Regions from separate parts of the Homo sapiens genome. Here region 2 is linked to region 1. The links come from fine-mapping of genetic effects on plasma protein levels. A gene starts in region 1. The other region holds a variant in brackets. All regions are shown on one strand. Distances are from middle to middle. Region 1 holds the start of ST3GAL6 (ST3 beta-galactoside alpha-2,3-sialyltransferase 6). Region 2 overlaps ST3GAL6 (ST3 beta-galactoside alpha-2,3-sialyltransferase 6).

Region 1 (8,000 bases):
GGTTCCATAATAGACCTATTTCAACGCCTGTGACTTTAAACAGGTACACTGCTTCTCTGTCTCCCTTATCAAGTTTCTAGTTCGTCTAAACAACTGCATGTGCCACTCCTTTCACTCCTATCCATGCCTATTAACCTCAATCATGGCGATGCAGTATAGAACCTGGGAGTCTGGTTGAATAAATTTCCAAATAATATGGCATTGCCTTCTTTTTAATGGTAAATATGTTCAAATGGAAATCTTAAAATAAACCACTCCCTTTGCCTTCATAAGTAGAATATACTAAACATAATTTAAACTTTTCTTGATAATATGGGGTCAGCTCAACAAATATAATTGTTCTGGGCTTTCTTACAGTTGAAACCCTCTGCAGCTAATGGGTGTGTGGGGCTATTTGCTAAGCAGTCCTAAACTGGCATGATTATCTGGTTGAGTTGCTTTTCACTCCTCCCTTGCTGTCAGCTGTTGGTTCTTGCTGCTATTAATGCAGTCACCACCCCCACATGCCACTATTCTAAATTAGTTAGAAATGAAAACTATGTCAGGAGAAAGCAAATAAATAAGCAAGTTAATGAGCAAACTTTAGTTCACACATACTTCTAATTAGGTATACATAATCCCTGTGAAGAGTCAACACTGGTTGGAAATCAGAAGACAAGATTCACAGCCTAACTCTACATATGGTGTGGGGACCCTAAGGTAAATCAGTCTACCTCTTCTGACCTGAGGGTCCTCATGTGTTTACAAGTGAGAACACACCATCTACCTCTTTGGGTTATTAGATGGTCCTGGAAGGCAGTTTACCATGGGCCAAAATAGTGAGGAACATCTTATTAAATGCTCAAATCAAACATTTAAGGCTCCACTAAGAATAACTTCATTTGGCTGGGCGCAGTGGCTCATGCCTGTAATCCCAGCACTTTGGGAGGCTGAGGCAGGTGGATCACGAGGTCAGGAGTTCAATACCAACCTGGCCAAGATGGTGAAACACCGTCTCTACTAAAAATGCAAAAAAATTAGCCGGGCGTGATGGCAGGCACCTGCAATCCCACCCATTCAGGAGGCTAAGGCAGAGAATTGCTTGAACCCAAGAGGCAGAGGTTGCAGTGAGCCGAGATCACGCCACTGCACTCCAGCCTGGGCGACAGAGTGAGACTCCCTTTCCCAAAAAAAAAAAAAAAAAAAAAAAAAAAAAAAAGAATGACATTTATGCAAAGATCCAACAAGGATAAAACTTACCAGTATCAGCAAAATTTTTTAATGTATTTACATCTAAGACAGTATATGAAGGTCTAGGGAAAGAAGTCAGTATTTACAAGTCAAAATTCCTATGTATTCTCCAAAACATACTCTTTGGGCAATTTATGTATTATTCTACAGAACACGGAGGTATGGGTAAGCGAGACTTGTGTTATTGTTTTGTTGTTTTTCATTCACTAATATGTGGTCTAATTAAAAACAAAGAAGTGTGAGAGAATGCTCTGTTTTCAAACAATAAAACGAACCCACTCTTGAACAGCTACTGCACACGCCACCTGAAAAACATTTAGGAAGTTAAGGCACTATCGTATTTCATGTACAATTCACAGCTTCAGTATTCAAGTTGCAAAGGACACGGGCCAGCCAGGATATCCTTGTGATAAACATGGTTCCTCTGCTTGCTCACAGGAAAAAGCTTCCACAAATAAACCAATTATCTAATTATATTGTATAAGTGGAAGGGCATTTTGCTTTGAGCAAAAACATTCAAAGAAAAAAACAGAATTTAAGAGGTTATCTGCTTTTAAAAAGACATAAGGCCCTTTAATATAGCTTTGATTACCAAAAAAAAGAGTTTTCAAGATCTTGACATTAAACAGGACCAATGCCAGCTTTGTGGCTGCAGATGCTCCTAAAATCAGGGTCCCTAAAACATCCTTTACAAAAATGTGGGTAGAGGATGGCAAGGGAAAGAAGGACTCACTGGCAGAGGACAAATGTTCACATATTCTCCAACTAAGATATGTAACCCAATGTATAAGTAACCTATATATGCCAAATTAAACTCAATCTTGACAAATGTTTCACTTTGCTTTAATAGTAAAAGCATATTTTGTGTGGAGCATCAAAGTTCATAAAAAATCTTTTATATGTCCATCCCTCCATTTAAGGCTCAAAATAAGCTTGTTAGATGGGTGTGCAGGTGTTGTCTTCTTGATGAATGAGGAAAACTGAAGGTTTATAAGGTTGAGTTGTCTGAGGTCACACAGTTTAAGGAAGACAGAAATAGATTTATGGTTCAATCATTTCTTTCTCAGAGTTCCATTCCTGGTGTTATCCTGTCTCTCAAGATAAAAAGCACAAGGCAAATCTAAAAGAGATAATTCTAATCTGAAAATTCCTAATGGTGTTCCATTGGTATCTTGAAGTCTAGAAGGGTAAATTCAGATATTGGTGAAAGGAGGTGACTCTAGGGCAGGCTCAAGAGTCTGCACCAGGCGGGGACTTGTTAACATGCACACTCCTGAGCCTCTACTTAATCTGAATCTCTGGGGCTCAGGAATGTGCATTTAAACAGCATCCACCAATTTGATTCTTATGCACACTAAAATTTTGAGAATCACTGCTCTAAGAAATACAATAGAACCATGGAAGAATTTCTGAAATACAGAGACTGTAACAGATACAGATCCCATAACTAGATGCTTTGTATTATTTTTTTTTACCCTAAATGCCTAGCACGTGGTAAATGCTCAATGAATAACAACTGATTAGAAGCATTAAGATGTATGAGTGCTTAGCCTGTGCCAAGGCATGTGATAATTGCTTTTGGTGTATTACCTCATGACATCCTGACAACCACCTTGCAAAAGAAGTGGTAGACTTACAATTCCTATTTTGTAGAGGAGGAAACCAAAACTCTGGGAGAAGCAACGACTTTGTTGAGCTGACAAGTAGCAGAACGAGGACTCAAATCTGTCTCTATCAGGCCACAGGCCATGCGTTATACTACCTCCCCCTAGATGTGAGCTTTCACAAGTGAGCACAGGCCCCTCCTTTTGCTACCAGACTAAACATTACTGAACATTTCTCCAACTTAAGCAATCCTGCAAGCTCCTTAAGCAATATCAATTCTAGTAATTGATGAAATGGAGGTAAAGCTTATAATACTTTTGATTCAAACTCAGCTGAAATAAAAGCCTGTTACTCCCAACCCTGTTCCCAGTTCTGCTCCTCCCAACCATGCTAGCATTGTTTATAAAAACAAACTCTACGGAGAAACACTTGAAAAAAATGTCAGGTTTTTTTTTAGACTCCCCTAATGCTTTCTCAAACCAAAGGGAGCTTGCTTTTCCAACCAGCTAGAAAAAAGCATGTTCAGCAATAATTCTAGAAACATTGTTCTACTTATCAAGCATTAGGTTAGTGCAAAAGTAATTGTGGTTTTTGTCATTTAAAACCAACCTAATAGAAAAACCCGGTGGGTATCTCAGTCAATATGCAACACCAAGGAAGAAAGACCCTTGGCGTTCTCTATTCCGGATGCTGAGCACACACAAACCTCACCTCCCTGTCTCCTCCATCCCCAGTTCTGTTTCAGTCTGGAAGCAGGTGCTTCCTAATGCCCATCTGCAAGCCCAGCCACCCCAGGCACTGGGACTGATTCTGACCCACAGAAAGAGAGTCTGAGGAGCCCTCGACTAGCAGCTTAACAGTTGGGTCAGGTTCCTGTGGATCCAGTAGTGATCCTGGTCATCTCATCCACTGGACCTGGGTTCCTGCTGCTGGGTGCTTAAACTATACCACACTTTTCCAACGTCTGCATTCTTCTCTTTCCTAGTCACCCTAGCAGCTCTGCAGCCAAACTTCCATTTTTTTTTTTTTTTTTTTAGTCACTAGGATCCTAAACCATGTCCCCATCTGCCCTGGGGTGAGGCACCCTTCTGTTCCCTGCTTCCTCAGTGGCAGACATACTACTCTTTCTACTACTAGGTCTCTTCTCAAACCCAACATGCTGCTGTTCAATAATACTCCTCAGTAACTCACATCTTTGTGCAAATAAGAGAAGCACATCCCCCTTCTACCTCCACACAGCCTGTGGGCACCTAATGTCTAATATCTCAGCAGCATCTAGATTTAAGCCACAACCTTCCCCTTAAGCAGGTAACCTTGTTCATGGCTCACCTCCATACCTTTACCAGGTGGCCCTGCTGACACCTGTGTCCATTCAGCCCCTGGACAGGCCGTCATCCATCCTAGTCTCTGCTGGTCTTCAGCTCACACTGACATACACTCCAGACTGTGTGGAACATGGCCAACAGATTTCACATCCTGCCTTCCTTCCTCTTTGTACTTATTACTCAATTTGTGATTATAATCTGCAGTCACATGCCTACATGAGCAAATCTACAACAGAACCTCCAACTCTAGCCATGCATTAATGTCTAGATTTTTTTTGGTCCAGCCTCATAGGTCCCCTAAGCCTAAGCCTCACAGACCCAGCCATCTCCATATGACCTGAGCCTTAATGTACAGGACTCCACAGTGATGAATGGAAAGGCCTCAGTCCTCCTCAATTCATTTACTACCTCTCTTTTAGGTTTGGTCCTTATTACTAATTAGGTAGTCCAAATGCGTGAGATCAGCTTCATTCATATCCCAAGGATCTACAACCTCTGGCAGCGATGATCATGTAAATGATAGCACAGTTTATTAACCACTTACTAAATGGCCAGCACAGTACTAAGCCCTTTTTCACATAAGGATGAAATCACGGATATTTTCATCCCCATGCTAGATATGTTTAATACCCAGAGCACTGGCCAGAATTCAAACTGAGATCTGATTTCAAAGCCCACACTTTGAAATTGTGGCTTATAGAAAACTATAATAACCATATTTTTAAGAGTATGAACTGTTAAATAATCATTTAATAATATCTTTTAAAAATAAAACAAGGGGATGATACACATTAAATTATGCATTTATCAAACACACTTCTTTAGAAACATTATAATATGAAAAGCTATTAATCTCATAATTAAAGAGAGAAATCCTAAGGAATCAGTAGTCTGGTTGATGGGATTTTCTGCTAGAAGGATGACGAAATTCTCAATAGACCATAATTAAAGAAATAAAAAACAGCACATATAGATTTTTTAAACATACAATATTACAACGAAAAGGCTAAATTTAATCTGAAGTTATAAACTAATGCTATTTAATACAAGTTAAGAAAAAAACTCTGACATTGCTGAGTAAATTAACAGAAAATCTGATTTATGCCCCCCTCCAAAAATATTGAGTTGTGTAGTGTCAACAAATTAGATCAGCTGTATACATTTTGACTGATTTCTAAGAATATAACTATTTTCTTTCTGCATTGCAGAAAGGGAACACGTATAATTAACTTTCTTTCCCTCTCCTCCCCCAACTCTTCTGCTAATACAATGATATGAAGCTGGTTCCGACATGCATATGCACAAACACCCTTCTCTTTCAGCTTTTCAACAAAGCCAGTGCTTTCACCAGTGCTTTCACTGTCCTTAGCACATGTAGACAGATCTTTTCACTTAATTAAAGATAAGCCTTCTGCCAAAGCAGATGACCAGATCCTCTCCTGAAAGTGGGGTGTGCTCACTGCAAAGAATATAAAAAGGAGAGAAATGACTTCTCAGCAGAATTTTCTTCTTTAATAGCACAACAGGACACACTAAAATCATTCAGCTAATAGCAACTATATGGGATGCTAAAAATAGAAGAACTGGAGTTCCTGTTTTCAAGAGCTCTCTCTTCAGACTCAGGTCCATTGCAAGTACACAAGTAAGCTTTTAGGGAACTTCTTTTGTTCCTACTGTTTATTCACATTTTCTTTCCATGCCCATTTATTCTCTTAAAGTAAAAATTGTCCCTGTATTCTCTTATTAACATCCTGCTAATAAGATATCAGCTTCCAAGAAGCATTAGATGTTGTTAACAGGTTGATGACTGTGGCTACTTTTTTTTTTTTTTTTTGAGATGGAGTCTTGCTCTGTTGCCCAGGCTGAAGTGTAGTGATGCAATCTTGGCTCACTGCAACCTCCACCACCCGGGTTCAAGCAATTTCTCCTGCTTCAGCCTCCCAAGTAGCTGGGACTATAGGCACGTGCCACCATGCCTGGCTAATTCTTTGTATTTTTAATAGAGATGGGGTTTTGCCATGTTGGCCAGGCTGGTCTCGAACTCCTAACCTCAAGTGATCCACCCACCTCGGCCTCCCAAAGTGCTGGGATTACAGGCATCAGCCACCATGCCCAGCCTGTGTGTAATTTTTAAAATTGCCTTTATTCATTTTTTTCCTTTTTTTGAGACAGGGTCTCACTATACTGTCCAGCCTGGTCTCTAACTTCTGGGCTCAAGTAATCCTCCTGCCTCAGCCTCCTGAGTAGCTGGGGATAAAATTTTTATACACTAAAATTCGCCACTTTTAAGTGTATCAGGTAACAACCACTGAAGTCATGATTCTAAACATTGTCATCAACCTCAAAAGTTCCTTTGTTCCTCTTTGTAGTCACTTCCTTCTTCCCACTTCCTGGCCCCTAGCAGCCTGATCTGCTATCACTATAGTTTTGCTTTTCTAAAATTTCATATAAATTGAATCATATAATATATATCTTATTTCTGACTTCTGTCAATTAACATAATACTTTTTAAAAAAATGCTCAAGTTGTTGCTTGTACCAGGAGTTCATTCCTTTTTGTTGCTAAATAGCATCCCATTGTATGGTCATACCACAATTAATTTATCAGTTCACAAGTTATTTATCAGGCAATACACATTTGGTTTCTTTGCAATTTTTGGTTATTGTAAATAAAACTGCATTAAACATTCAAGTGCAACTTCTTGGGTGGATATACGTTTTCATGGGCCATATGGTAAACACGTTTAACTTTATATGAAAACTTTATATTGCATTGTGGTGCCTATCTCAGTTATATTGCATGCTGGTGCTTATCTCAGTTTAAAAAAAAGCCCTACCTATACCAGTTCAAATTATTACTGCTATTGAATAATACAAATCACTGACCGAGGTAAGAATCTCTTATCTATTAATATCAAGAATTTCATAATGTGTACGTACTCGACTTTAGGATATGGAGAATAGAGCTCACAGTCTGGTGAAGGAGCTGTTACACTGTTTCAAAATTATTTCCATTATCTGCTACGAGAATTAAAGCAAACTATTTTACACCTCTGTTATTCAAAGTGTGGTCCATGGACCAGCAGTACTGGCATCACCTGGGAAGTTGGTAGAGCTGCAGAGTCTCAGCTCCAACCTTTGATCCACTGAGTCAAGTGGATTTTGGCAAACCCCATGTGATCTGTGTGTTTGAGAAGCACTGCTGGAGAAGGTCAGAGAAAAAAGGAATTGTATCCAGCCGAGAAGATCAGGGCTTCACAGAAAACAGTTTTTGAGGGGAACTGGCAGCTCATTCTAAGTTTTATGCTACATCTTTTAAGAGTCTTTAGGGCTTGACCTTTGAAAGTTTTCAATCAACAGAAGTTTCTCTGAAGAAACTAGTCAGATTCCCTTTGAAAATAAGTGGCTTTGAGAAAAATTTCCCTCACCACTCTAGGGAATGTTTGTGGGGTTTTTTGTTTTTTGTTTTTTGTTTTTAATTCCCTGGACACTGTCTTTCCTGTATTATTTTCAGTCTCATCCTTCCATCTACTATTAGTGTCAGTATGATACTACCAGTATTTTTGAGGGAAAATATGTAGGATTCCTCCATTCACATTACAGCTATAGGACACACACCTTATCTTGCATCTCCTTCTGATTCACCTAAGTGCCAACTGAATCATTGGCCACATATTTACAACATTTCCAATTATTGCAATTTACAACTTGAACCCAAGAATTACAGATCTTAGAGCTGGGAAGACCGCAAGAGTTGGGGGCATTTAGACACAGTGAGGACTTACGTATCATACTACAGAAGAGGCAGCCAGGATTTTGAAAAGTTTAAAAAAAAAAAACT
Region 2 (8,474 bases), 27 kb before region 1:
TTTCTTAAGTGTTTACTTGTTCTGTTATCTTCTTTACCTTTCCTAATTTACTTCAAGTGGAAAACCTTCAAAATTTAATGAATAAGTAAGTCAGGCAAAAAAAAATAATGTTCAAGATTTTTTTTTCCTTCTTGAGCTTGCCTAGCTTAGCTTCACTGTATAAAGTTAAACTTCATTTCTTTAAAATAATACAAAGCCATCAGAGTTTAGTAATTGTATTCTTTCTTTAGTTATTTACTTATCTAATAAGAACTTTATGTTTAGCCCATTTCCTTTAACTTAAAAACAAACACTGCCTTCATTGTACCAAATTACTCTTCACAATCATGGTTCATTTAATTCTGGGGGTTGTCAGGAGAGAGCTTAATTAAACCAGTATGAACTTAGATTTCCAGAGCCAAGTGGTTTCGGCTTGCCACATCAAGCCACAATCGTGATTTTCCACCAGCCATGTTTACAGTAGCCAAATATCCTCCTCAAAATGTCTTATTGTAGTCAGAATTGTTGTGGTAAACTAAATCCTTAGTAGGAAGTCATATCCCTTCAAAAATCTAAGATGAAGTAACTATAAAAAGACGTGTGAAAACACCTCAGAAAACTAGCTTATTTTAAAAACAATGCAATCAAAACTTATTTTCCTGTTATCTTTACATTTCTTGGTTTTCATAAGTTAAATATACAGTATTCACAGAAATTAAGCTGGTGGTTATGAATCACCAGGCAGCAACAGACAGTATACATAATTATTTGACGAGTGCATCCAACATATTTTAAACTAAAAATTGCAGTACAAAAATAAAACTAACACTGTTAGCATCATCTTCTGAGTCTGTAGAGTCAATCTTGAGTCAAGTTGATTACGAGGTTTTTTTCTATAATGTCCTTCAAAAAGAGCTGCTCTGCAGTCACATTGTGATACGCGTTCTAAAGAAGAAAAATACAATTACCATCATTCTTTCCCAATCTCAAAGTATTAGCAGCACCAATGGAGTACTTTATATCTAAAAAAATCCGAATAAAGAACTCGAATGTTAAGTAACGAGTTGCATGTACTTTTAACTTTTGATAGCCTTTTAAATTACTTTCCTTGCTGGTTCTTGTGCAAAAGCTTTCCCTACAGCCCACTCTTTCCATTTCAACTCTCACATAAGTAAGACTCCTTCATATCAAACCCTGGTAGACCGAATCATGGTACAATACAAATCTGGAGACCAAAATTTTGAGTTGTTCACTTTAATGGAAGAAGCCCCTAGAAATCAGTTTAAAAACAAACAAAATCAGCCTGGAGATAAACTATTATAATGCCTGGTTCAGTTTAAGATGTGTTAAAAATTACTGTTCTATACATGAATATCCAAGTTTTCTTCCTGAGGAAGTTGTTTTAATATTCTGCTCTTTAGATGACACTTGAAATACCACAAGTGCTACAGGAAAGTTTAGGGCGGAGGAGAAATCAGCCTAATCCAAAGTCTGTTGGGGTACCTCATTCTTGAAATACTTAAGTGCTTGTCTTACCTGGTGGGGACAGAGGGTGGGGGTGAGGGACAAAAGACAATACTAAATCTAACCTGATTTATACCACTTTCTCAGCTTATATAGTGGGGTGATTCAAGGGGACTGATTTCATGAGATATATCCATATACTTTTTATCAAGTAATATTTCAATATTAAAAGTATACAGATAACATTTTAATCCCATCACTTGTGATGCACTACTAATTTAAGTTAGAATTACAAAACTAGGAAACTCCTTCCCAGTCAAGTAAATTACAAATCCTTAGCCAGGCACAGTGGCCCATGCCTGTAATCCCAGCACTCTGGGAGGCTAAGGCGGGCAGATCACATGAGGCCAGGAGTTCGAGACCAGCCTGGCCAACATGGCAAAAACTCATCTCTACAAAAATACAAAAAAAAAAAAAAAAAATTAGCCGGTCGTGGTGGCGGGCGCCTGTTATCCCAGAAACTAGGGAGACTGAAGCAGGAGAATCACTTCAACCTGCGGGGTGCAGGTTGCAGTAAGCCGAGATCATGCCAGTGCACTCCAGCCTGGGTGACAGAGTGAGACTCTCAAAAAAAAAAAAAAAATTTAAACTAAAATTGTTAAAAAAAATAAAATACAAATCCTCACTATTAATCCCTATTCAAGAGAAGTGTGATCCAGTATGAAAGTTGGTAACCTTTTTGATCATGAAGATTCTCTTGTAGGGTTAAAATATTCTACACCATCTTGTCTACTTAAAAACAAATGAGAATAATTAAGCACAGCAATGCAAGGTGAATTTGTAATATCTCAAACACAGCAGGTTGCCTGAATTTCAATAGTGCAAATATAATATCTAAAGTAAGGTTCTGTACTTATATGGGTTTGATGACACTTGGCAATAACCATGAGGCCCATAAATTGGGATTTCATGCTGTAGTAAAATGATCCTGGACATGAGTTCTAGTTACAGCCCTTGGTAGCCCTGTAATCACCATCAAGCCCTCAACCCTTCAAAACGTGGTCCCTCAGTAAAATGAGTGTGAGAAGAGAAAATATGGGCTTTCCATCCCTCAAAGATTAGTCCAAAGCATATGTATATTACCTAAAGTACAGTATATTACCTTATTCATCAAAGACATGGTGGCATTCCCATAGTAGTGCAAAGGACTCTTGAGGTCAGAAAAGTTGTATTTAAAACCAGCTAGGTGAACTTCGTGACATATGTAAAACGCCAATGTGATGGCAATAATTCCTGTTGTTGGGTGTTTAGGTTTCTGGGGGAGGGGATGAAAAAAACTTTTTTAAGCAAAAGGAGCTACTTGTTACCAAAGCATATTTGGTTGGCTGAATCATATAAAACAGGGATTTCTAAACATTTAATAAGGAGAGAAATAACTAAACTCTCATTATAAGGCTCAAGCCCCAAAGAGTATGCATATATACCTTAACTCTAAAAAATATATAAACTGTGATTGAAATCTTAGGAAGTCTTTAAAATAAAATATAGCTGTGGTATTAGCCCAGAGGACAACTATCCAATGAAAGAATACTGTGAGGCTTAAGGAAGAGAATGTTGCTGTATTGTTTTAAAAAACACAAAAACATGATGAGTCAGGCTCCTTATGGCAAAAGCAAAGCCTGGGAATTTTGAACACGTGTATGAAATATAAGGACAGCTTCATTCACAAACGGATGGAATCATGATAAAAGACTTCATATAAATTCGCCTTCGAATAGCTATATTTTATACTCACCATTTAAACTAACTCTAGGGAAAGGCTAATCTAGTACTTCAATGATAAATTGTAACAGTATCTGACTAGAAAATAAATATTCCAAATGCATACATAGCAATATCACAATCTCAGCTGCACCATTATACTTTTAGAAAGAAAAACCAAGCATCCTCTTTCCTTATCTTACATATATCTTGAAAACCAGTGTGATAGATATTTGACAAGAGGGTCTTGGCTTTCAGAAATTGTAATTCTCACTGAGATGGCCTTCAAAGCGAAAAACAAGATACATCTTAAGCTTTTTACATAACACTTTCAATAAAGTGTTTCTTATAGTTCCCATTGAAATTACATATGACTTACTATGATTTTGAGGAAAAGAAAAAAAAATCGAAGAAGCACAACCAAATCAATTCCAGGAGGCAAACTTGTCCGAAAGCATTAACTGCCTTCAGCATAAAATTTTCTTTATCCTATGTACCATTGTAACCTAGGAGTCATTCAGCCTCATTGATCC[C/T]ATTGCTTTTTCCTTCTCCTTGCCCCTTTTCATGTCTTCTACTTCCTTTCTTCACATCTTAAGAGTCCTTCATCCGTCTTTATAACCATTCCTTTATATAGACCAGCTCTTCTGCAGCCATCACCCACAGAACCTATATTACCACCTGACAAACTCTTATAAGAGGAATAAGCACTGCAGTCACCCTGTACCCACACCCCAGCAACAGAATAGGGCAAGAGAAAAATACGTTTACCTGGTTGAATGTTGAATTTATGACCCAACTCTCAAACAGGCAGTAAGTATTGCCTAGCAATCCAGTTACGTTTGACTAGTAAATTTCCATTCCTACTCTCCAAGATGAGAATTTATAACTTTGTATCCTGCAACAGCCCTAGTCTTCTTCCTAATTTGACTAGTTAATCTTTATTTTTTTAAGGAAACAAAAGCAGTCAAAAGAGTGGCTTCATCATCCCAACTCCAAATCTACCATCTTACCTGTATCTTTACTCACATTTGCAGTGCTTATTCCTCTTATAATGGATGAGATGTAACTTCAGCAACTTTTCACTAGTGTATATTTTATCCCATATCACTTCTCAACAATTTTACTTCTGTACTTAACTACTTTCTCCCCTCATCATCAGTGTTTCTTTCTGCTGAACCATTCCCTTCAGCATATACACAGACCAAAAATAAAACACGCTTCTTCGATCCTATATCATCTTCCAACTATTGCTTCATTTCTACGATCCTTGTTCTAGCAAAAAGTCCACTAAAGATTTGTTGCTGCTTGCTCATGTCCCAGGTTCTCTTCAACCCAATTCAAGCAGGCTTTTTCCTTCTTTCTTGTTAATATATATCACCAATATGACCTCCACGTTTCTAAAACCAGGGTTTATTATTTACATTCAACCTCTGGACAGCATCTGACATGGCTGACTTCTCTTGAAATACAGCATTTGATTTCTGGGACACCATGTCCTACTGGGACTTTGATGTAGCTACAGCTAGTTCTAATGTCATCACTAAGTATGCTCAGGGTCTTCCTGTGCTTTTGGAATTAAAGATATTACCTAAAATGAAGAAGCAAGAGATATACCTGATCATACTTCACTTAGGAATATAGGAAGTGAAAACTCACAAAACACACATTCAGAAGCTGTCCTTTACCCTCAAAATTACTAGGAAGTCAGGTTTAAATTTAAAACATGTATGCTTTTTGACTTGAGCATTCCACTTCCAGAAGTCCATCCTACAGAAATCCGACAAATGGGCAGAAAACCCCTATAAACACATGTACTGCTATATTATTTAAAGAGAAGAAAATGTTGGATATATCTGAGTGTCTATAAATAGGGGAAGAGTTAAATAAAGAGAAAAAAGAAAATAACAACAATACCTATGGTATAATCATAATTATACTGAACAAACAAAAAGATTATGTGTTTATGAATGCATAGCAAATAGTCTGGAAGCACATAAAAGGTAGAAAAGCTTGAGAGGTTACATGGGTTGTAGAGGGAAGAGAATAGACTGGTGACTTCCTTTTTGATTTTTAATATTCCTTTATTTCAGTGTGCAACACTAACATTTGTTTTCAGCATATAACACTTTTGAATTTCTTAATCACAATTCTTATCATGCTAAATATACATCATGAAAATACATGATGTATATTTATTTCTTTGGATTTTTCCCTACTTTAAAAAGGGGTGAAAAACTCATTTCAACCAAGGTGTCATGTTATACAGTTACTCAAGCTTCCAGTAAAAAATATCTCTGCCACTGTATGGGTCTAGAGTATTGTTTTCTAGGGAAAGAAGGCAAACAGGAGTGAAAGTCAATGAGATTTCATTTTGAAGTTTCAAGAACTCTTTCAATATTGCTGTAGCTACCATTTCTTGAGAATTTAATGCCAACATTTCCTCTGACCACAGAAATGTTTCTGGACTACTTTATTGTCCTTCCTCACCTTTCCTCTGGCTTTCCTGTGATATTTTTATCAGAGCATCTCAGACACTTCTTTTTAGCCTGCAAAGCCATGCACTTGGCCTGAAGCCAGGCCAGCTACTCTGAGCACAAGCCTGCCCGTCAGCCCACCCAGTCAGACTCTCCTCACTGCAGAACACTGAAGACAGAGTTATGAAAGATAAATTGTTTCGGCATGCACAAAGAGACCCCAGGAAGGCCCTACAAGGGCAGGAAAAAAACCCAACTTAAAATTACATTTCCTTGCAACATAAATGAAAAACATAAAGATAATATCCATAGATAACTACTTTTACTAACTCAGAGATGGCCCTCAGAAATCATCTCATGAGCTGTGGTTCTCATACAGTTTCTGAGAGTTCCCAGGACCCTCTATCCTACCTCAGCCAGATCTGTAGTTTGAAACCATGCAGAGATAAATACATACCTGATTTTTGGGAAACACTTTTGGAAAATGAAGCAGTTCATAAGCTGCTGTTCTGATAATGAAAGGATCTAATATTCGGATTTGATAAGGTTTATAAATCAGGTTTAAGGCTGGTTTCTTCCAAAAACCATTAGTGTTCTGAAAGTAAAAAATATAGAGAATAGAACAGTGTGGCTGTCTGTTTTTTAAGGAAAAAAAGCACTAAAGGTAATCTGAAGGCAGAACAATTTTGCCTACTTACTATTTTGTCACCCATCAACAATTCCAACAGCCACCTTAAATCATGTGGCTTAAAAGCAGTGAGAATCACTGTCGTATTAGGGTCATTGTGAATAGGATCTGAAAAAACAGATTCTGGATAAAAAAGTCGGAAGGTTGTCCTTCTCCCAACTTCTTCTTCATGTCCTAAAACAGGACCATTATTCATTCTGTGGATAGTAAAACATACAAGATATGTAGACCAAGTGCAGTATCTGCCATTCCCATCACAGTTCTCAGAGGTTTCAGAGTTGGACAAACATCAGCCTTTTATCCTGTGCTCTGAAGCCACAAAGCAATAGATCAATCTTTCACACATAATGGCCAAGGAGATCATTCCTTTTCATGAAATAGTTGGTTGATCAAAGGCAGAAATGTTCATTTGTATTTGAAAATTAATTGTGGAGCCAATGATAATTCAGTCTTACCTCCAGGGGAACTGAAGACTAAATTTAAAAAAGTGGGAACACAGAGCCACAGGATACCAGAGTTGAAAGAGAACTTGGAGGACAAACCCCTGGAGAGAAAATTACTTGCTCAAAGCCACACAGTCATGTAGCACATGGATGTGTGTGACTGACAGGTAAGAAGAATCACATTTAAGTTGGTTTAAAGACCCATCAAAATTGTTGTACTCTGAAATAAGGTTAACAATATAAATCTGCTATATTATATTCAAGCACAACCAAATGAATGTCTATTGCTAGAGTAAACTAAAGAACCACAAAGGATCTACTGTTGGGTTTGTGTATGCTGAAAGCCAAGGTTGGACATGCACTATTTATGCACACATTATGAAGCCATGCTATAAAAAAAGAAATGCTTTGTTTCCAAAACAGTGTCCCCAAAGAGATAAATACTGTTTTGCCCTTTGCTACTGACTCTACGTAATATAAGACGAACAGACTTATTAACACTTGAGATGACTTTCAAAATGTTGTACCCATGATATTTTCCTGCAAGGGTTTCCTGTGGCTCTAAATTATCAGATTTAGACAATTATGGGTAGAGAAACCTGTGATTGCTTCAAAATTGTTTTGTAGGTAAATTATCACAGCTTCCTCAAAATGGATAGTAAACAGAAAATAAGGTGACCTCACCATGCAGAAACCCTAGGCAGCTTGTAACCCCACAAAACCCCCAAAGCTGCCAAACCATCCTAATGTATTGCCTCAGTATGCTAACTTTGCCATTCTTTAAACTATTCATAGCTACTCCTAACACACACACACACACACACACACACACACTTATCCCAGATGATGACCTTATCTTGACCTTTCACTAAAAAAATAGAGATAGAAAGGTCCGTATTTTCCCCTCACTACATCAGAGGGACTCTTGGTAGTTGTAACCACAATCCTGGCTCTCCTTTCCATTATGAAACATTAACCACACTTGTGTTCTGAACCCCCTTCCCCTCTCTTTTACCACCCCAATCTCTTTCTCATTTCCACCAGTTAACCAATGTACTATAGTGCCTCCAATCTTTTCAAAAGAAGAAAACAAACAAAAAAAAAACCCTGATTGCATAACCATCTCTAACTGCCATCTGATTTCTCAACTCCTCTTTGAAGCAAAATCCCTGGACTACATTGGTTTCTCTACATCTTCATCTGTACATTCAGGTGTACATTCTCTGCATTCCCTCTTCGACCTAGTCCAGCCGGGCTTCTTGCCACATCACGCCTCTAAGCCTGCTTTTATTGGGAGTGTCAATGAGCCTCAGGTCACCAGTCCAATGGTCACCACTCTGTCCTTATCTTGCATGACCTCTCACCAGCACTGGGATACAGTTGGTCACTCCTTCTGTCCTGGAACACTTTGCTCTCTTGGCTTCTGTGATCACCTTCTCCCGATTTTCTTCTTACCTCACTGGTGGATCCTCTTCATCTCTTTTACACATTCCTTTTTCTTTGCTCAACCTCTAAATTTTGAGTTCTCTGAGGCTCAGTCCTCACTCTCTTCTCTCTCTCTCAGTCTCTCCTTGGGAAATCTCACCCAGTCCATGGTTTAAATACAGCTTATAGGCCACACACCATCAAGATTTTAACCTGTTTATCCAACTGCCTACTCGACAA

What was found. A credible set is the group of variants that fine-mapping cannot tell apart. PIP is the chance, under the fine-mapping model, that this variant and not a neighbour inherited with it causes the effect. Protein levels are from the aptamer-based SomaScan assay of Sun 2018.
Region 2: its variant is the best candidate, but not a certain one, in a credible set for the plasma level of the ST3GAL6 protein (Sun 2018, PIP 0.86).

The regions. Positions count from the first base shown.
Region 1 is chr3:98,759,604-98,767,603 of GRCh38, reverse strand. ST3GAL6 (ST3 beta-galactoside alpha-2,3-sialyltransferase 6) reads right to left here and starts at 4,264. Exons shown (of 10, transcript NM_001323368.2): 1 at 4,165-4,264.
Region 2 is chr3:98,786,125-98,794,598 of GRCh38, reverse strand. ST3GAL6 (ST3 beta-galactoside alpha-2,3-sialyltransferase 6) reads right to left here. Exons shown (of 10, transcript NM_001323368.2): 7 at 6,377-6,563; 8 at 6,136-6,273; 9 at 2,606-2,758; 10 at 1-924. The coding sequence ends at 838. Among named protein-coding and RNA genes, the nearest start is that of ST3GAL6, 27 kb to the right of the region's middle. The variant C/T (reference allele first, on the strand shown) is at 3,738.